Regions from separate parts of the Homo sapiens genome. Here regions 1, 2, 3 and 4 are each reported to be linked to region 5. Evidence: microRNA targets listed by miRTarBase, many of them from high-throughput screens and not tested one by one. Region 5 holds a microRNA gene; each other region holds the end of a gene's coding sequence.

Region 1 (3,997 bases), not on the chromosome of region 5:
CACAGGCTTGAGGTGTTGCCAGGATTCTATCCCAGGGGGTTTTCTGGGTCCCCCAGAGCCCTCTCAAGCACGGGGAGGCAGAAGGGTCCTCGCCCATTTCAGGAATCTGCAGCCTGGAAGCCACAGCCATGGCAGGCCCCCGATACCCAGTTTCAGTGCAAGGGGCAGCCCTGGTGCAGATCAAGAGGCTCCAAGTAAGACCTGGCTGGGTCCTTAGTGGCCCCAAGGGATAGGAAGGGGGTGCCTGGACCAGCACCTCCACGGCACTCCCAACTTTTTGTCCCCCAGACGTTTGCCTTCTCTGTGCGCTGGTCAGACGGCAGCGACACCTTCGTGCGCAGGAGTTGGGACGAATTCAGGCAGCTCAAGGTGAGTGACCCTGGGCCACCCTGATGCCGCGGTGGCGGCTTCCCCACGCGGCTGCCTCCCACTGGACTGCCTCCCATCAGTGACTCCCACTGGAGGCCCTTCGTCCCTGCTGAAGCTCCCAGCCCCTGCCATCCGGGTGAGGGACCCCGCCCTCTCAAGGGTGCACAGTGGGCTCTGGAAGACCAATGCCCTGGTTCCCGCCCTCAGAAGACCCTCAAGGAGACCTTCCCGGTGGAGGCGGGCCTGCTGCGGAGATCTGACCGCGTTCTCCCAAAGCTTCTCGGTCAGGCCAGCCTGGGTACGGGAGCGGGGAAGGCGGTGGCTTGCCTGGGGGCGCCAGGGACCAGTGAAGCCCAAAGCGGCGTATCACAGTACGTTTTTGTGGTGCCTTAAGATGCACCACTGTTGGGACGCGTGGGGCGCACGAGCCGCGGCCTGGCGCGCCTGCAGCTGTTGGAAACCTATTCTCGGAGGCTGCTGGCGACTGCAGAGCGCGTGGCACGGAGCCCGACGATCACTGGCTTCTTCGCACCGCAACCCCTGGACCTGGAGCCCGCGCTGCCACCCGGCAGGTGCCTGACTCGCCCCAAACTCCCAGCATGCAGCGGCGTTTGGAGCTGGGAGAGGTCCAGGGTGGGGGGGAACAGCCAGCGAATAGGGGCAGAGAGTGGGAGGCTGGCGGTCTTGCCGGGGTGGCGCCCCCAGTTTCACCCTCCCCATCCGCCTACCTCTCACTCGTACGGGCTGCCCTTCCCAGCCGGGTGATCCTGCCCACCCCAGAGGAGCAGCCTCTTTCTCGCGCTGCGGGCCGCCTCTCCATCCACAGTCTGGAGGCTCAGAGCCTGCGCTGCCTGCAGCCCTTCTGTACCCAGGACACGCGGGATAGGCCTTTTCAGGCGCAGGCCCAGGAGAGCCTGGACGTGCTGCTGCGGCACCCCTCAGGTAGGGCCCCCCAAGAACCCAGGGATTTGCTCCTCTGCTCCTGGACCCGAGGGAGCCTCGAGATTTGAGTCCCTGCCCGCTTCTTGCGCACAGGCTGGTGGCTGGTGGAGAACGAAGACCGGCAGACCGCCTGGTTTCCAGCGCCCTACCTGGAGGAGGCGGCCCCGGGCCAAGGCCGGGAGGGAGGCCCGTCCCTAGGGAGCAGCGGTATGCGCCTAACCCCACCCCTCACGCCACCACTGCGGCTTGACCGTGTGGCAAGACTGGGCCAGAAGCACCGCGGGCAGGGCGGGCCAGGAGCCCGTGCTTGGTCTCCGCACCTAGAGGAAGCCCCGAACCGGTCTTAGAGCGGCCCCGCCGTCAGCAGACTCAAGCAAGGAGAATGTGGAGAAGGGTGCGGGCGGGCCTCGTCCTCTGTGGCCCCGCGGTGACTCCAAACACCCACTCCCACCAGGTCCCCAGTTCTGTGCTTCCCGCGCCTACGAGAGCAGCCGCGCAGATGAGCTGTCCGTGCCCGCGGGGGCGCGCGTGCGCGTGTTGGAAACGTCAGACCGCGGCTGGTGGCTATGCAGGTACGCGGGAGCGGGCGTGGGCAGGGCAGGCTAGCCGAGGCGGGCGGGGCCCTAACCACACCCCGCCCCTCGCAGGTACGGCGACCGGGCGGGCCTACTCCCCGCGGTGCTGCTGCGGCCGGAAGGGCTGGGCGCTCTCCTGAGCGGGACGGGGTTCCGTGGAGGAGACGACCCGGCGGGTGAGGCCCGGGGCTTCCCTGAACCCTCCCAGGCCACCGCCCCTCCCCCCACCGTGCCCACCCGACCTTCGCCGGGCGCCATCCAGAGCCGCTGCTGCACCGTCACACGCAGGGCCCTGGAGCGGCGCCCACGGCGCCAGGGCCGCCCTCGAGGGTGCGTGGACTCTGTGCCGCACCCCACGACGGAGCAGTGAGCGCGAGGATCCCGATGAGGGGATGGACCGCGCCATCCCAGGGCTGGGGAGGAGCGGGGAGGGCGGATCTCCCTGGCCAGCAGGGATGGGAGGGGGCCATTTGCTGTTCCTCTGAGTAAAGCTTGTTCTGCATGACCCCCACCGTCTAAGCGTGCGGAGCCGCGGGCTGGATCTCTGCCAGGCCAGGGTGCGGGATGGGCGTGGCAGGGCCGAGACCATCAGCTCCAGTGCCCTTCTGGCTGGCTAGGTAGGGTGTTGGCCAGGGTGGGGGGCTGGACTGCAGTCCAGAGAGACAGAGCCGGCCAGGAGAGCGGCCTTTATGGGTTTTCCAGGGGTTCAGGATGGACTGGAGAGAGGCCGGACCGGCTAGGGCAGTGCGCCTTTATGGGTTTCCCAGGGGGTGGGGGCGGCGGCCGGCACAGGGAGCTTCATGTTGTGCCACAGGAAGTCCAAGAAAGCGGCGGCCTGGAGGGTCCTGCTGAGCCGCTGAAAGTGCCGCTCTGGGGTTGGACAGAGGGAGGTCAGGGGGGTGGTCCACACGCCCACCAGGATCCCCCAACCCCAGGCTGTGCCCACATACCAGTGTAGGGCAGCAGGGCCTCAAGCGCTGCCCGCACGCCTTCGTAGGCCAGCAGCTCCTCGGGGGCCTCTCGCCTCAAGAGCACACCCAGCACGGCCTGGGCCTCGTGGCAGTGCCGCGAGTTGGTGTTCCACGTGACGCAGAAGCGCAGCAGGGCCTCTGTGGGCAACAGGACCCTCATCGTCTTGCCCAGCCAATCTGCCATGACTGGCCCTTGCCCACCGGGCCACCCACCCTGACTGGCCGCCAACCTTTCTGGTCGCGCCGCAGTCGGAGCATGGTGGCTTCCAGCTTCTCGCAGGCCTCAGGGTCCCTCCGGATGGCTGTGGGAGAAGGGAAGGCTGAGCTGGGGAAAGCAGAGCCCAGTGGTCCGAAGACCCAGCCCCTCGCCCCCCGGGGTGGGCACTGACCCTGGATGACAGTCAGCACGGTGTGGGGCCGATCCAGGGAGATGGCCAGGCCCAGCGCCCGCAGGTACCGCTTCTCATGCAGCAGGTTGTCCAGCTCTTGCTGCCTGTGGGGAGGGGAGGAGAGGCCACTGAGGGCCGCTGGCTGGGGCTGCAGGCAGAGCCATCGGAGTCAGCAGGCAGGGAGCCTGGCACTCAGCCTCGTTTTCCCTACAGCACAGAGCAGGGCTGATGCGGGGAGGGGCGCCACTGCCCTGGCCTTACCTGACCACCTGCTCCTCTTGCCTGGCCTGCTCCTCTGCCTGCTCCGCCTCGGTCACATCCTGGGGTTAGACTAGGGTCAGATGGGGCCTCCACTCCACCCCGACTCTTCCCTGCCCTTGGGGCCCACAACCTTCCAGAGGATGACTCGGGAGTCACTGGCCCCAGTGAGGGCGTGGTCGTCCAGCCGGCTGCAGTGCAGCCCCCAGACCTTGTCCTCGTGGGCATCCAGCGTCCGCACACACTCGTTGTTCTTGATGGTCCAGAGCTTCACGAGGCCATCCGAACCGCTGGGTTTGGGGTGGGGAGAGGCTCAGCGTCAGGCAGGTCCCCCCGCCACCCCCCACTCCATCGCTGCCCCACCCCAGCCCACTCACCTGGACAGCAGCTGCGTGCCACGGCTCACAAAGGCCACCTTCAGCACAGAAGCATCGTGCCCCTCAAATGTCTGCAAGGTGGGGGGTAGGGCATGAGATGTCACCAGGGCGGGAAG
Region 2 (4,176 bases), not on the chromosome of region 5:
AGAGAGAGAGAGAGAGAGAGAGAGAGAGAGACAGAGACAGAGAGAGAGTGTGTTAAAGTCCTTCCAGTAAGCATACATTACATGGTATCACTCAAGATCAATTTACAACATTAATAATAGCTGTATGTTCTGTCATCATGTATTAGTGCTCTGCAAAAGAAAACTGGACTGGAAAATTAGCAGGGTTAAAGAATAAAGTGAAGAATAAAGTGCCTTGGTTAATAATGCACAGAGGCCCTAGAAATGTAATCGCCCAATGGGTTCATTGCCTGCTGCCAGGACAGAGCCGATTTATCAAGACAGGGAAATTGTAATAGAGAAAGAGTTCAATTCATGCAGAGCCAGCTGAATAGGAGACTGGAGTTTTATTATTACTCAAATCAGTCTCCCTGAAAATTCGGAGACTGGGTTTTTTAAGGATAATTTGGTGGGTAGGGGGCCAGGGAATGGAGAGTGCTCACTGATCAGGTCAGAGATAAAAATCAAAGAGCCTTGAAGCTATTCTTGGCTGAGTCAGTTCTTGGGTGGGGGCCACAAGACCAGATGAGTCAGTTTATCCATCTGGGTGGTGCCAGCTGATCCATGGAGTGCAGGAGCTGAAAAATATCTCCAACACCAATCTGAGGTTTCACAATAATGATGTTATCCCTAGGAGCAACTGGGGAGAGTTCGAATCTTGTAGCCTCTAGCTGTATGACTCCTAAGCCTATTTTCTAATCTTGTGGCTAATTTGTTAGTCCCACAAAGGCAGCCTTGTCCCCAGGCAAGAAGGGGGTTTGTTTTAAGAAAGTGCCGTTATCATTTTTGTTTCAAAGGCAAACTATAAACTAAGTTCCTACCAAAGTTAGCTCAGCCTGTGCCCAGGAATAAACAAGGACACCTTGGAGGTTAGAAGCAAGATGGAGTCTGTTAGGTCAGATTTCTCATTGTCTTAATTTTTTCACTGTTATAATTTTTGTATAGGAGGTGTCTGGAACATTACCTGTCTGGTAACCACTCCCACTTTCATTGGCACAAATTTGTATCTTGAAAATATCTGTATTTCTAATAGAAAACCATTCACAATCACAGTGAGGTAAACCCAAGAGAGAAGAGAGAGAATAGACAGAATTCAATTTACTCAAAGAAAACTGAACTTCACCACAAAAGGATCTTTTCTCATTTGGGGGAATTATTTATTAACATTTCTATTATTAAACTCATTTTTAGGCTAATCCTATAAATTCACATATATTAAAGCATATACACATATTTATGTATCATTCCTTGGGGAATCATTAAGCTCTTCTGACATACTAAACAACTATGTAAAGATTAGCAAAAAGTCTCTTTTCTTTGCCATTACTGAAGAATGTGTTTTACCCACTGAAAAGTCTCTAGAATGTAGAATCAGGGTCTTGAGAATGTTTATGCCTTAAATTTCCTAATTTCAAGCCAGCAGAGGGCTCCCTACTGTAACATGATTCTGTATATGTATACAAAATTCTGTGAAAATTGTTGTTAAGGGACAAAAGCAGGATTCAATATATGTTATAGGCTTACGTATTGTCTATAACTATGTGTTAAATTAAGAAGTATAAAAAGAATGAAGCAAAGCCAAACCCACTTCTGATACTTGAGATAGAATGTGTTGCTTTTTCATCATGCAAAATTTAATCTTCCTCTGCTGTTCCAGTTTGAAAACTAAATATGCTTCAATTCTGTATCCTCAGTTCACATAGACACCTGCAGTCTGATTCTCTTAATACTCTATATTTTTGTCCATTCAAAGATTAAATAATGTATTGCTAATATGAGATTATCTAAGTCAGGCTCCTTAACCCAGTGATACATAGGCAAAGCTCAATGAAGAACAGCATTAGTTTTTTTTAGTACATGTGTCTTTGATTATTTAAATTATTAAATTTTATTATTAAATTATTAAATTTTAACTTGATTTCAAGAAATATTGGATAAATGAAAAATAAAGATTTTTTTTTTAACTTTTTCCAGTTCTCATTCTTTGGACTTCATCCTGCTTATCCCTGTCAGTTCCCTCCTAACGAAACACTTGGTGGATTTTTACAATCCCAATGAACAATGTACACACAACACCTTGGGTAATTTTATTTAGAGAATTAACATTGTTCTGATAACTTTAAATAATGCAGAATTGCTGCATGCTGCCCAGTCTGCCAAAACAAATTGACCAAGCATATTAGAGAAATGTATGACAAAGTAACCTGTTGAAAAAACTAATTCTGACAAATTCTGTTCATTTTTCTTTCAGTGATGTCTTTTTTCTTTGAGACGGAGTCTCGCTCTGTCGCCCAGGCTGGAGTGCAGTGGTGCAATCTCCACTCACTCCAACTTCTGCCTCCCAGGTTCAAGCGATTCTCCTGCCTCAGCCTCCAGAGTAGCTGGGACTACAGGCGCACACCACCATGTCCAGCTAAATTTTTATATTTTTAGTAGAGACAGGACTTCACCATGTTGGCCAGGATGGTCTCTATCTCTGGACCTCATGATCCGCCCACCTCAGCCCCACAAAGTGCTGGGATTACAGGGGTGAGCCACCGCGCCTGGCCTCAGTGATGTCTTTTTCTGGAATGCAGCTTCTTAGGTTATATGGATTGCAAAGGTAACTGTGGCCTTAGGAAGACAACCAATGTAATACATTTTTATGACTACAAACATGTATCTATGCATAATTTTAGCAAACATCAAAGGAAACATTGTTTTCAAATTGATGTAAAGGCAATATTCCTTCTTGTTTTTACTGTTTTTAAGTTTCATCCCTTCTTTTTATACTTGTCATATAAGGCTATCAGTTAATATAACATCATTATATTTGAAATCTTTTTTTAATTGTAGTAAAGGGGGGAAGTAACCAAAACTGACTTTAATTTTTAATAGAAAATAACAAATGTGAAAGGCAAACAATAGTAAATAAGTAATTTTACTTTTCATTGAAGAAATAGTTCATATAAGCATTACATAAAATAATTACATTTTAATATGCAGTCATAATATGCGTGTGGACAACTCATTAAAAGAAGAGAATTATGTACAAATTCAGGTTATTTCCAAGGGTGAGAGGTGAGTTGTTTCATGCTTCTAACTCCCCAGAAAGCAATGCAAATGGAAAAAACAATCTGAAGAAATAAAACACAAAGAGAAAAAAAAATTAGAAGTGAATCAATACTATTGCTCAACTGAATTAAAAATATTTCCCTAGAGGAAAATGAACATGGACATTTTAGGGAGTCAAGTTATTAAATTAAATCTAGCAATTGTTCACTGATAGAACTTAGCCAATTTAACTTAAAACATGGTGTGTGAAGACAGGAGCAGGAGTTAAGAAGTTTTATTTCTGTGGCTTGTTTCTTATATTCACAAATCTGGGTCATTTCAAGGAATGAGGCTAGACAAGTTAGATATTCAGACATTTCTTCTGACATTTGGAGATACAGCATGCTGTATGCATTATACTAGATGATCTAATTGCTTATATAGGTTAAGAAACCTTTGGAATAGGAGAAGTAAAAACACTGTTAAAGAATCCCTCCAAGTCAGTATGATCTAGCTTACTATGAATTTCGCCCAACGTGAATTAAATTCTAAACACTGCTGATGATTTACCTCCTCAGTCTTTTGATTTTATCAGGTGTAAAAATGTAACTGCAAATTTCTTTCACACTGAAGACTTAACTGAATCATATTAAGCAGCCTGAAAATTTCATTGAGTTTGTTCAATCCAGGCTCTGGTCATGGTCTTTGCACCATCAGATTTCCCAAAAGTAAACACTTCCCTATGCTCTTACCTAGGCACCGACAATTAAAACTATAGGATTGCTTTCCTGATCACCATTTTAGGTGGTTGGGTAACTGGAATGATGATGAAAGCAAACAATGCCAAAACAACCAGAGTTATTGGGATAGCTGTGCAGGAGTTTCTCTATATTTTTCATGTATGTGTATACTTCCCCTCCATACTATTAAAATAGGACCAGATGCCTCTCCCCAAGAAGAATATCACTATACCTGGAAGATTCACTGAAATATACAAAGAGAGAACATTTAATTAAGAAGATGAAGGCATGGGAGCATTCTGGTGTGGGGAACTCCGGTGAAGTCAAGACTGTTAACTGAGGACAGCTGTTAACTCACAGAAAATACCTTGAACTATGCTGATTT
Region 3 (4,047 bases), not on the chromosome of region 5:
AAACCCCAGCTTTATTTTTCTGTAACAGAATGCACATAAAATAGGTAAAGCACATACAGGAGGTAAAGTTACGCTCATTTTGAAAGCAAAGGAATGTCAAGGGTCTTAATGGCTGAGATTAAGATTTTGAATATGTGGAAATAATAATAGATTGAAAATGCAGTTGACCACCAGTTTATGGAAAGGAAAATACATATTTTGGTGGTTCTGTTTAGGGTTAGAGTCTGGGAAGATAAATATATACTCAAAACTAATTGTTTTGTAACAAAAGGCAAAGGGCAGTATTTGATTTCTTACTAAGGTTACTGAGCTTATTTATTTTGTTTTTTCTTTAAACAGATGCTGTATATGACTTGCCTAGCTCCAGTGAAGACCAGTTGCTAGAACATGCTGAGGGACAGCCCGTGGCATGTAATGGACATTGCAAGTTCCCCTTTTCATCCAGAGCCTTTTTGAGTTTCAAGTTTGACCATAATGCTATAATGAAAATCTTGGACCTTTGATAGCAGCACATGTATTGTAAATGTCCCAGGATCAGAGACCTGTTGAATTTGAGTGGGTGTCTCCTCAAGCCTTACCTTTCTCAGGTGTTTTAAAGAAATGCAGGGAGGCAATGTTTCTGAAGACATTTTCTGTTTATAAGAGAGTAGAAAGAAACACGAGTTTGCACTGTAAATGCAGTTATAACCTTTTATACAGATTTACCTTTTCAGTGTTCAGTACAAGTTTAAGTTGCTTTCTTTGAGGGCATTTATTCTGTGTGACTGTGGGTTTTATTTTGTATTCTGGTTAAGAAAATAATGTATTGAGTTACTGTCAAGTAGCCAAGTTAATGGGAATGCTCCATCTACCTGTTACAGTGATTGCAATAATAGTATATTGGAGTTTTTCAAAGAAACTTAAAGTAATGCCCAATTATTAAATGAACACAAGAGCTGAGATGTCACATTCGTCAGCATTACAGGTGATCTATTTTGGTGGCATTTTGTACTTCTCTCTGCTTCTAACCACTGAGGCTCTCTAATCTTCCTCTGGAGTTTTAGTGAAAGGATTTATTGAGCAGCTTCTGGAATATAATGTGCATGTCCAAAATGAACTCAGCGCTTCAAAAGGACAAAGTCTGTAGCCTGGAGGGGCTTGAGTGGATGGGAGCTGATGCTGTGATTTTGAGCTGTGGTTACATGCAGTCAGTAAACCTGTGAGACTGCTGGAGGAAATGTAGCAGACAGCATGGAGGCTGGGACCCAGCAGCTACTTTGGGTCATGTCTTTACTGTCCTGCCTCCAACCCTTTAGTCTCGTAGACTTTTGTTCTTGTGGAAATTTCTTCTGTATTCCAGTTGTGTAAATATGTATGGAAAACTGATATTACTAGGTTTTACGTTGCATCTCCAGTATTGATCTTTGGAAACTGATGTTACATTAGGTTCCAATTCGCAATAGTAGCAGAGACTGACATGCTTTTATTGACCTGCTAAGCCCCTGGATGATGGAGCGAGAAGGGAAGGGGTATGCAGTTTACCCAAGTCCAAATAAAGCATTTCACTAGGTTACACGTTATGTATATGTGTTACATAACAGTAACATACATAACTCACTCCTAGGAATGTATTTTGCTTCAGGATTTTTAAATTCAAATAAGGATGGCAGTGCCCATTTTAAGGAGGATTTCAGCTATAACTGAGGACAATCACCAGGGCGTTAAGGGGGCTTTAGTGTTTTGGCTGCATCTGACCTCATTGAAGGAATTTCTTGGGAGTCGGGGGTGTTTGAGTATATGTGTGTGTGTGTAACTATCATGTGGGTTTTAAAAATCCTTTTTTACAGTGGTATCCACAAAATACTTCTCTGCTTATAAATGTTATTGTAGAAATCTTTATTCTGTGTAGGTAGCCTATTTAATTGGGTTCCACTGAACCTCATGGGACTTTTAAAAGAAGGGCTATTTAAGGAATTCACTTGGTAGTACTTTGCTTTAGCTTTTAAATGGCTTGATTTTAAAGGAGAAATTCTATTTATTAATGAAAGTGTCACCCTTTTGGTGCTAAGCAGGAGAATTCACAATTAAAGCAGTGTGTATAGAATTATGATATTCAGAATCCTGCATCTTTTAATGTGACAAATTTTTGAATCCTGTGACTTTTGCTTTTTAATGCATTATATGATTGTGTTTGGAAGCTTTTACTGTTCTTTTCAGAAATACGGCTGCTTTGCTTGGGTCTCTTCGAGCCATATTTATAGTTGGTCCCAGCATTCCAGACTTCTGGTAAATTGTTAAAGGAGTGAAAATGTAGTTTGCCTGGCAGATGAATAATTTTCACTCATTTATTGTCTTCTGGAAACCATTTAACTTTTACTGTTTTTTATTTTTTTGGTATGTGTTTTTTTTTTTCTTTTTAAGTGCATACTTTGGCCAGTCTTCCTGGTGCCTGTAGAGTTGGATTTTTCAGCTCTCAATACTGAAGCAAAAGAGATTATAGTTACCAGAAGTATGGCCTCTAATGGTGTTGAGCCTTTTCAAGAACCAACAAATTATCTTTGTGATTACAGTAGTTTAACTATGGTTAAATGTTACTGCTGTTGCGCTGCTTTATTTAATGCACTGTGGAACAAAATATAAGGGTACTGTTGGGGTGTGATTATGATAACTTCAGGCTTTTAGCTCTCCTCAAAGTTTGAGGTTAAAAAAATGTTAAAAGATGTGAGTTAAAGTTTATGTGTGTGATGTGACTTAACTATGCAGAAAATATTTAAGTTGGATGTACTTGTTTTAGGTACATCTACTATACTTATTCTCTCAAACCTGGGTAATAGTTTCTCAGTGTTCAGGTTACCTTGAGAAAGGCCATGCTTAGCGAACTGGATTTCTCCTTTGAGAAATTTTAGTATGGTTTGAGGAAATCAAGTGATAAAGGAGTATGCTGAATATGCAATCATTTACTTCTACTGAGTGCTGCATTTTAAGATGCTAGATGAGAAGAGTAGTTGGTTTTGCTTCATTATGTTTTATGTCTTTGAGAGAGATACAGGTCTTGGAATTCACTTTTTAAATGTTACGTTCCAACCTTATATGTTCCAAGGTGCAGTGCACTGTGAATCTTTTATTTTTAAAAAAATTTGTAGGTGCTTTTATGTATAACTTTAATGATTTATAAGATGCTAAATGAATTGTTTTTGTACCTAACCATTGTAATCCAAAAGATAAGGGTGTGGTTTACATGCTTTTCAAAAATTTTTGTTAAGAAGTAGCAAATGAATGGTTTAGGATTTCAAATAGTGATACCCTCCTGAGACATGAGCATTTGGAGAGGCCTGAGAACCTAATAGAACTCATATAGTGTGAGTGAAATTTGATTAAAGATGTTGGAAAATGAAGTTGGATTTTTGTATTCATGTATAAAGGAAAGTCTCCCAGTGCTGTCAAAGGAATTGTGGTTACTACTTGCTGTTCTGAGCTTTGAATATCGTTATTTTTCTATTAAATATCAATTAGTAAGTATAGCTAATGAAGACATATAATGAAAGTAATTTTATGCTGTAAGATTGAATTGGTACTTTTCCTTATTAAGGCTTTAGTAATTTGTATGTAATGTCAAATAAAAGGAATTCAAATCTGAGTAAATAACAGCCTCCTACTATAGGAATTAGATTCTTCTATAAAAGTCACCATATTGTATCCTATAGAAAAGTTAAGGTCTGAGTGCATGTGTGCATTAAAAACATTTCACTACCTATTCTCTCATGGACTTCTCATCCTTTCTTTTTTCATCTCCAACAGTTAAATGGTAAGGAGAGCAAAGTTAATTATAAAAATTAGACATTTTGCCAAGTTAGTTTTCTTACCACAATACCCTCTTGGCTTTTTTTTTTTTTTTTTTGAGATGGAGTTTCACTCCTGTTGCCCAGGCTGGAGTGCAATGGTGCAATTTCGGCTCACCGCAACCTACGCCTCCCGGGTTCAAGTGATTCTCCTGCCTCAGCCTCCCAAGTAGCTGGGATTACAGGCATGCGCCACCACGCCCTGCTAATTCTGTCTTTTTAGTAGAGA
Region 4 (4,176 bases), not on the chromosome of region 5:
TCTCTAGAAAATTGGACAGCATATGCCCCTTTTGGAGAGGGCAGTTTCAATTAACTGATGCCAAGCAAGAAAGTATATGTGTGGTGGTTGTGAGGTGGGGAGTGGGAGGTGTTCTGTGTTGTTAGATTATCCAGTATTTTAAAACATGCAGGACATTGAATTGTACGTAACATTTTCTGAATTTCAAAAGCTGTCTATTGCTTAAAGATTTTTTTAAAAAATGTTCAATGGCCAAATAAAACACATCATTTTTGGACTAGATTCAGTTCAAATGCTTGGAACTCTAATGTAAATACACATTTATTGACACAGAAAGATATCCATAACATATTGTTAAAATTTTAAACACCCTGCTACAAACAGTTTATATAATATCTCAATTTTGTTAAAATACAAGCATATTTACATATATGTATAAACTCTAAACAGTGTCTAAAGGGATATAAATCAAAATGTTATTAGTGGGTAATTTTGCTTTTCTGTTGTATATAGTTCTCTATTTTTGTATTTTTATATTGACCATTAATATTTTATATTCAGAAAATAAATGATACAGTTCTTTGTATCTGTGGTTATAAAGGTAAGAGTTAATAGTCTGGTTTAAAATGTTAAGAATAAACTTAAAATCAAAATCACTAAGTATATAATCTTGCACATGAAATCAGACAGACCCAAGTTCAAAATCAATTATTCCATTAATTACCTCAGTGGCTTTGGGCTTTCTCACCTGTAAAATGCCAGTGATAATACCCGCCATCTCCACCTCAGATCCTATTGGTGATGTAAAAATGAATAAATAAAAATAGAATTAATATCTAAAACACTACATTCCTAGCATCACCAAATCTAAGTAGATAGAAGAGAGAAGGGGGCTTTTTCTACCACAGTTCAAGTCTAGAAAGGAGACAGATGCTCCTCATAGAATGTAACAATGTCATGGAGGCATAATACACAAAAAAAAATTGTTTGTTTTTGCTATTCTATCTGGAGGCAGGAACATCACAGGAGACTAGGAGACTTTTCCCTTGCCACCTCCACTCCCAGAATCCAAAGCTCCTCCCTGCTCCACATCTCACTCCCCATCTAGCAAGGACACCCAGTGGAATGAAGCAGAGTATGGCTGACAACCCACTGCCAGAAATAGCATCAGATGAGGCAGAATCCATATTACGTTTTTGAGAATTTTTGGGTGGGTCCTAAGTGTGAGTAGAGCTCTGGGACAAATAAAATAAACTAGAGAAGCTACTTCCAAGGATTGGATTTGACCCTGGAGTAAATAAATGTATAAATATTGTTTGAGAGTTTGTCATCCTTTATCTCCTCTTCCCACCTAACTGTATATCCAGTAAAGACATGGATTTACCAAATAGAATTCAAGTAGATGAAGAGGTACACTAGTAAAATCAACCAATCAGCTGATGTAAGGTGGGTTTTGTTTCTGTCTATAGAACCTCTTTTTCACCACAAAGGGCTTAACACCTGCATTCCACTATTCCTCCTACCAGCAAGTTAAATATAACAGAGGGTAAAGAAATTTTTTCAGGCCATTGTAGCATCATTGGAAACTTGCCTTCAAATGACTTCAGGTACCTCCTCCTCGAGTGCCCAGTTTTAAACCCAGGGAATAATTTCATCATATCTGGTCCATGGAAATAGCAAACTCTTTAAGATATTTTTGATGTAGTAACCCATTTTCATTAGCTTTGCTTTTTCAATTCACAATAAAAGAAAACAATAAGTGTTTTTTTCATATCTTTACTCTTTCAGTAATGTGCAACATAAACATAATAGTGTTAAGAAGTCAGAAATAACACAGAAGCTATAGGAGATGTTTATATTTGCAAAATTTCAACAATTATCTTCTCTAGGTTTCCCCAAATTAGCATATTTGTTAATCAAATTAATTAAGAAGCTTTTCAAAATAAAAGCAATGCTTTAAATAAATATATTCTTTCATAACCATAGAACATTTAGTTCTGTTGGAGGTAACAAACATTACACTCAAGTACTTTATGAAGACATTAGGGTAAAAATTACCTAGATGCAATTATAAATGTACCCTAATTAGTCATTTCTTTTTGCATGTATGCTTTTCTGTGTGTGTTAGGGTTATATCATAGATGTGTGGTAACTGGTTAGCTCTTAAATTATCACAAAGATATTATCGGACCCACAGAATTTATATCAGCTCAATGTGATGATATGATATTGTTTGAACAATATCTTTAAATTTAAATTTAGTACCCTAAATTACATCCAAACAAAGCCAACACCTCTAAGCTGCCATATCTGTTATAGAAAATGAGTGCTAGACTCTCAGCTTGGAAGAATGAGACCTTCCTACAAATCTCGAAATTATACAACAATATTATTGTCACATCAAAATCCTAATTGCAACAGAGCTTTCAGTGTGTTTCAGAGTACCACACAGGTAGGTATAAATTCACTTATGATCAGCTTTTCTAGTGAAATCATATGTTTAGTAAATGACTACAGAAAACTTCCTAAAAATTGATTTTATTTAATAAATATTTTTTAAAGTTTTCTGACTGAAGAAATGACCTTGCTAATCTTTTTAGAAATTCTCATCATCTGTTTAATCTTTCATTCACTTTTATTTCTACTCTGATTCTTAGGAATTTTTCTAATCTATATTTAATCTACCAAAACATCTATGCTTTGATAAATTTGGCTTCCTTCAATAATAAGCTATGCTAAGATCACTAAATTAAATGTCAAAGGCAGAGAAGTCAAATTAAACACAGCAACAGGTTACAGTAAGTGCTCTTTAGAATTTCAGATTAAAACAATTGTCCCAAAATGATCAAGGAATAACTCACTAAATGAATAATGCAACACAGAATAGATTTTAACAGAATTTCTCTCTCTCTCTCTCTTTCTCTCTCTCTGCCACACACACACACACACACACACACACACACTCTTCCACAGGCATCCACACAGGGGTGTTGACACATGTCTCAGAATTTAAAACACTGATACTAAAGGCTTTAATTTAGATAAATTAACTACACTGAAATACTGACATTGTGAAAATATCTATGTCCAATACCCCATATAGGGCACCATTTTGTGAACTTATAAAACATTTAAAGAAAGAAAACAAGAATGAGAAACCAGAGTCCTTGATAAGATGGGTGAACGTGTCGATAATGCCCAGAGTCACAGCTTCCCATTCTCCTCACTACTTTCCTTCTCCTCTATGGCTTCCAGGCTGCGCTTGCTCTTGGCCTCAGCACTGCTGCTGGGGGCTTTACTCAGTCCACAGGACAGGCATGCCAGCTGGATCTGCTTCATGTTTTCTATAGCTTCATTCTTGGCATTCTTCAACAGATCTCCTTGGCCCTACAAACAGAAAAAAACAGGCATCAAAGAAGACAGTTATGGGCCAGGCATGTGCTGAGTGACATCACTCTATGTTCTTACTGCCCATTGCTGAATAAGGAAACAGACCCAGACCTGCAAGCTCACTTTTCCAGGGTTTAACCCAAGGTTCTTTTCTAACATTATTAAGTGACTTTGCTTGTTAAGCCAAGTACCTCAACCTGAGCCTGACCAGCTGGCTATGCAATTGCTGGCAGTCCGTTGAGATTCCTATTGTGAGGAATCCTCCTCTTTATGTGCTGAGGACATCAACTCTTCCATCACCATGGTCTGAGACTCTGCACACTGCTGCAATACCTACCCCGCCCAGATCCAGCATTCCTAGTCTTGGGAGAAAACAAGGAAAGAAGCTCTTCCTTAAAGAAGTGAAAATAAAATCTCCCCCTCTGTACAAGAGCTTACAAAGCAAAGTGTCTTCTGTAAAGTAAGTCACATACCCTTATGCTTGGTGAGCTGGTTTTTAATATACTGGGTCATCCTTGCAATCTGCCTGTTGTTAAATTATCAGTCACCCACATTACTTCTGCCTTTTCCATCATCCTGAAGATGATGTTCCCACCTGGCAGATGGAGAAAAAGAGTCTCCAGAGGCAAAACAAAAAGGAAATGAGGATTGCAGGAACACATTAGCTGTCATTTACATCAGTGCCCAACAGAGATCTTTTCCTGCTATTTTTATTTCTTATTTTAGTTCACTGTTATGAAGATAAAGTGCGTATACTGATACTGGCCCAAGGGCTGAATGACTGAGTGTGGGGAAGCAGGGACAGGT
Region 5 (4,176 bases):
AATTTTTGTATTTTTTGAGAAACAGGGTTCTACCACGTTACCCAGGCTGGTCTCCAACTCCTGGGCTCAAGTGATCCACCTGCCTCGGCCTCCCAAAGTGCTGGGACTACAGCAGTGAGCCTGCTTTTCTTTTAAGTAAACTTTATTCAAATACATTTAAGTAAATATTTAATAGGTATTTTGTTTGTTTCTTTTCTTTTTTTTTTTTTCTGAGACAGAGTTTTGCTCTTGTTGCCCAGGCTGGAGTGCAATGGCGCTATCTTGGCTCACCACAACCTCTGCCTCCTGGGTTCAAGTGATTCTCCTGCCTCAGCCTCCAGAGTAGCTGGGATTACAGGCATGTGCCACCACGCCCGGCTAATTTTGTATTTTTAGTAGAGACGGGGTTTCTCTATGTTGGTCAGGCTGGTCTCAAACTCCCAACCTCAGATGATCTGCCCGCCTCAGCCTCCCAAAAGTGCTGGGATTACACGCGTGAGCCACCGAGCCCAGCCTGTTTCTTTCTTTCTTTCTGTTTTTTTTGAGACAAAGTCTCACTCTTGTCGCCCAGGCTATAGTGCAGTGGTGCCATCTTGGCTCACAGCAACCTCCACCTCCTAGGGTCAAGTGATTCTCTTGTGTCAGCCTCCCAAGTAGCTGGGATTACAGGCACCCGCCACCACGCCCGGCTAATTTTTGTATTTTTAGTAGGATGGGGTTTTTCCATGTTGGCCAGGCTGGTCTCAAACTCCCAACATCAGGTGATCCACCCACCTGCCTCGGCCTCCCAAAGTGCTGGGATTACAGGAGTGAGCCACCGCGCCCGGGCAATAAGTATTTTTAAAAAGCCATAAGAACTAATAAGTGAATTTAGCAAGCCTGTAAAATAGAAGGTTACTATACAAAAGCACGTTCTTATCTATTAGTAGCAAACAATTGGAAAATTAAAATTTTTAAATTTTATTTAAAATAGCATCACAGGCCGGGTGCCTGTAATCCTTGCATTTTGGGAGGCCAAGGTAGGCGGATCACCTGAGGTCAGGGGTTCCAGACCAGCCTGGCCAACACGGTGAAATCCCATCTTTACTACAAACACAAAAATCAGTAGGTCGTGGTGGCGTATGCCTGTAATCCCAGCTACTCGGGAGGCTGAGGCAGGAGAATCGCTTGAACCCAGGAGGCGGAGGTTGCAGTGAGCTGGTATTGCGCCACTGTACTCCAGCCTGGGCAACAGAGTGAGATTCCGTCTCGAAATAAATAAATAAATAAATAAATAAATAAATAAATAAATAAATAAATAAATAAATAAAATAGCATCACAAAAAATACAACATTTAGAATAAATTTAACAAAAGATGTGCAAAACTTCTATTCTGAAAATTACAAAACAGGTCGGGCGCAGTGGCTCACACCTGTAATCCCAGCACTTTAGGAGGCCGAGGTAGGAGGATTGCTTGAGTCCAGGAGTTTGAGACAAGCCTGGGTAAGATGGCAAAACCCTGTTGCTACAAAAATAAAAATAGCCAGGCGCGGTGGCTTATGTCTGTAATCCCAACACTTTGGGAGGCTGAGGCGGGGAGATCACTTGAGGTCGAAATTCGAGACAAGCCTGAGCAACATGGTGAAACCCTGTCTCTACAAAAAATACAAAAATTAGCCGGGCGGGTGGCGGGCGCCTGTAATCCCAGCGACTTGGGAGGCTGAGGCAGGAGAATTGCTGTCCGGGAGGCGGAGGTTGCAGTCAGCTTCGACCGCAGCCTGGGAGAGCAAAACTCCTTCTCAAAAAACAAAAACAAAGGGAGAAGAAGAAAAAGAAAAAGAAAAAAGAAAAACATGCCAAAAACACATAGTAACTGAAGGGAAAGGAATCTGCCAGCTTCCCACTATGGGAAAATCTGCCACTGTGGAAGCTGGCAGATTTTAAAAGTTTGGCAAACGGAAGCTGATGGAATTTCGATTTGATGGTTTCTATTTAGCTTCGTAAAATAGGCCTGGCATAAGGGGATTTGCTGTGAGTCAAGGTCTGAGGAAAGCGCCAGTTTGCAAAGCCGTTTTGGAAAACTGGAGCGTGGGGGTGTGTGCAGGGTGAGGGGAGGAGGCCTAGTCTGGTCCACCTTAGGTCTAGCAGAGACTACGTGGAGCTTTGAGCCGAATGCCCTGGTGAGCTGCCATGGCAACACAGCCGTGGGCACAGGCCCACGGCAACCCATCACTGAACAGAGTTGTGGCGTTTCAACAGAGAGTCTGGGACATCAGGCAACGTGGCGACCCGAAGCAGCCAAAATGAGACCTCGACAGCAAAGGCCTCGACAGCGGAGCCCGGACCTTTGCAAAATCTGCAAGTAACGCCAACGTCACAAAGCGCGACCGAGCCCTGTACGTCATCGTTCCGCGACGCCGACGCGGTGAGATGACGCCCTCCCGGAAGTGACCTCTAGAGCGGTGGTGAAACTGGCAGTTGACGGCTCCTGGGACTAGATCCCGCGAGGTAGCCCCCGAACTATTTCTCTACGTTTTCTCTTGATCCTCCCGAAATCTTCCAGATCCGCGTAGTGAGGAATCGTCTCCACCGTCATGGGGGGCGGAGACCTGGTGAGTGGAGGGAGGCCTGGGCGGGGGAGGACTGAGGCCGGGACGGAAATTGGCAGGGGGTGGGGGTAGAGGAAGGAGTGGATAACCATGGCAACGCAGCTTTGCTTTCGCCGGGAGGAGGCCGTTGCCCTGAAGAGGGGATGGATCCTTAGGGCAATGGAGGGGTGGGACTGAGATTTGGGAAAGTCCGAGGTGTGTCGCGAACAGTGACAGGTGGTGTTTGCGTGTTTGTTGACTGCGGCTCTACCGGCTGTAAATTCTGGGAAGACCGGGGAGGGGGCGGATGGAGCCATGGCTAGGAAAGGAGGTAGATATGGAGGACGTGTCACCACACTTTGTTTTGTATATCTTGTCTTGCCACACACCTCTCTTCCTTGGGTGAGAGTTCAGAGTCATGTCCTGGACTGAAGTAGGGGTGGTTTGTGCCCCATTCTCCCTACCCTAAGCCATGCCCTGGGGTCGTTTTTTATTTTTTATTTTTTTGAGACGGAGTTTCTTGTTGCCCAGGCTGGAGTGCCATGGCGCGATCTCGGCTGACCGCAACCTTTCCCTCCTGGGTTCAAGCGATTCTCCTGCCTCAGCCTCCCGAGTAGCTGGGATTACAGGCATGCGCCACCACACCCGGCTAATTTTGTATTTTTAGTAGAGACAGGGTTTCTCCATGTTGGTCAGGCTGGTCTCGATCTGCCGACCTCAAGTGATCCGCCCGCCTCGGCCTCCCAGAGTGCTAGGATTACAAGGGTTAGCCACAGCGCCCGGCCCTGGGGTCCTTTTTAAGCCTGAAGGGATCTTCCTGTCCATCTTTCTGACTTCCACACCTCCTTCAGTGCTGGATTCTGATCTGTAGTGGCAGAGCTTGCTTTTGAATTCATACCACTTAATATAAGTTATGTGGCAATGTCTCTTAAACTGAAACGTTCATTTGTAAAGCGCTAAGGCCCCAAATAGGGTAAATGTACCCACAAGAGCATGGGGCAAGGTTGGGAAAATGCTAGCCTCCGGAAAGTGGAGCTAATTGAACCAGCAAGTAGATCAGCTTAGCCGCCTGCCCAGTAAACCTATTAGTTTGTCATGTGTTCTCAATCACAGTGAGTGCCAGGACTCCATCTAGTTTCATCCAATTTAGTGTATTCTTCACATAACTGCATTTAAGGACAGGAAAGCTCTAATCCAGGGTTTCTCAACATTAGCGCTCTTGACAGTTTGGCCTAGATAATTCTTTGGGGGTGTGTGGTAGTGGTGGTAGTTGGGCTGTCCTGTGCATTGTAGAATGTTTAGCAGCATCACTGGCCTCTAGCCACTAGACTGGAGCTATCCACTAACACCCGTCTCCACCAGTTGTGACAGCCAAAAATGACTCCAGAAGATTTTCTCCCTGGGGAGCAAAATAATCTATGCTTGAGGCAGGGAGGACAAGATGGGAAGGGTTAGAGGGAGAAAGAGGGAGGGAGTGAGGGAGGAAGGACGGAAGGATGGACGGATGGTCAGACCAACTGACGGACTGACCCACAACCAACCAACTGAATGACCTGACGAAGGGGAGAGGCAGGACAAGGAGGGGAAGAGAAAAGGAAGAAAAGGGAGCTCTCATTGACCGAACATTTT

The links. The annotated mature microRNA hsa-miR-4727-5p reads AUCUGCCAGCUUCCACAGUGG and lies in region 5 at 1,878-1,898, opposite strand. An mRNA with a match to its seed (bases 2 to 7 or 8) in the 3' UTR can be bound and repressed. Matches are read on the target gene's strand: a 7mer-m8 pairs with bases 2 to 8, a 7mer-A1 pairs with bases 2 to 7 and ends in A, and an 8mer does both.
Region 1: miRTarBase lists TBL3 as a target of hsa-miR-4727-5p. Seed matches in the 3' UTR shown: 7mer-m8 at 2,430-2,436.
Region 2: the mRNA of AGMO is a reported target of hsa-miR-4727-5p. Seed matches in the 3' UTR shown: 7mer-A1 at 2,351-2,357 and 7mer-m8 at 2,171-2,177.
Region 3: miRTarBase lists DCP2 as a target of hsa-miR-4727-5p. Seed matches in the 3' UTR shown: 7mer-m8 at 2,300-2,306.
Region 4: miRTarBase lists PLCL1 as a target of hsa-miR-4727-5p. Seed matches in the 3' UTR shown: 7mer-m8 at 2,907-2,913.

Annotation. Positions count from the first base shown.
Region 1 is chr16:1,977,311-1,981,307 of GRCh38, reverse strand. TBL3 (transducin beta like 3) reads right to left here. Exons shown (of 22, transcript NM_006453.3): 16 at 3,882-3,952; 17 at 3,638-3,794; 18 at 3,508-3,566; 19 at 3,247-3,350; 20 at 3,088-3,159; 21 at 2,837-2,995; 22 at 1-2,756. The coding sequence ends at 2,623. It overlaps NOXO1 (NADPH oxidase organizer 1), which reads left to right. Exons shown (of 8, transcript NM_172167.3): 1 at 1-194; 2 at 289-369; 3 at 577-652; 4 at 764-941; 5 at 1,127-1,311; 6 at 1,405-1,518; 7 at 1,766-1,883; 8 at 1,959-2,391. The coding sequence starts at 129. The coding sequence ends at 2,256. Among named protein-coding and RNA genes, the nearest start is that of NOXO1, 2.2 kb to the left of the region's middle. RefSeq lists enhancers at 399-978, 979-1,556, 1,557-2,136, 2,137-2,716, 2,717-3,296 and silencers at 786-1,080, 1,873-1,992.
Region 2 is chr7:15,198,226-15,202,401 of GRCh38, forward strand. It overlaps AGMO (alkylglycerol monooxygenase), which reads right to left. Exons shown (of 13, transcript NM_001004320.2): 13 at 2,092-3,134. The coding sequence ends at 3,060. Among named protein-coding and RNA genes, the nearest start is that of DGKB, 300 kb to the left of the region's middle.
Region 3 is chr5:113,012,982-113,017,028 of GRCh38, forward strand. It overlaps DCP2 (decapping mRNA 2), which reads left to right. Exons shown (of 11, transcript NM_152624.6): 11 at 340-4,047. The coding sequence ends at 503. Among named protein-coding and RNA genes, the nearest start is that of DCP2, 38 kb to the left of the region's middle.
Region 4 is chr2:198,145,970-198,150,145 of GRCh38, reverse strand. PLCL1 (phospholipase C like 1 (inactive)) reads right to left here. Exons shown (of 6, transcript NM_006226.4): 6 at 283-3,366. The coding sequence ends at 3,184. Among named protein-coding and RNA genes, the nearest start is that of LINC01923, 230 kb to the left of the region's middle.
Region 5 is chr17:38,823,561-38,827,736 of GRCh38, reverse strand. MIR4727 (microRNA 4727) reads right to left here and starts at 1,899; the gene lies at 1,845-1,899. CWC25 (CWC25 spliceosome associated protein) reads left to right here and starts at 2,416. Exons shown (of 10, transcript NM_017748.5): 1 at 2,416-2,571. The coding sequence starts at 2,554. RefSeq lists an enhancer at 3,077-3,708.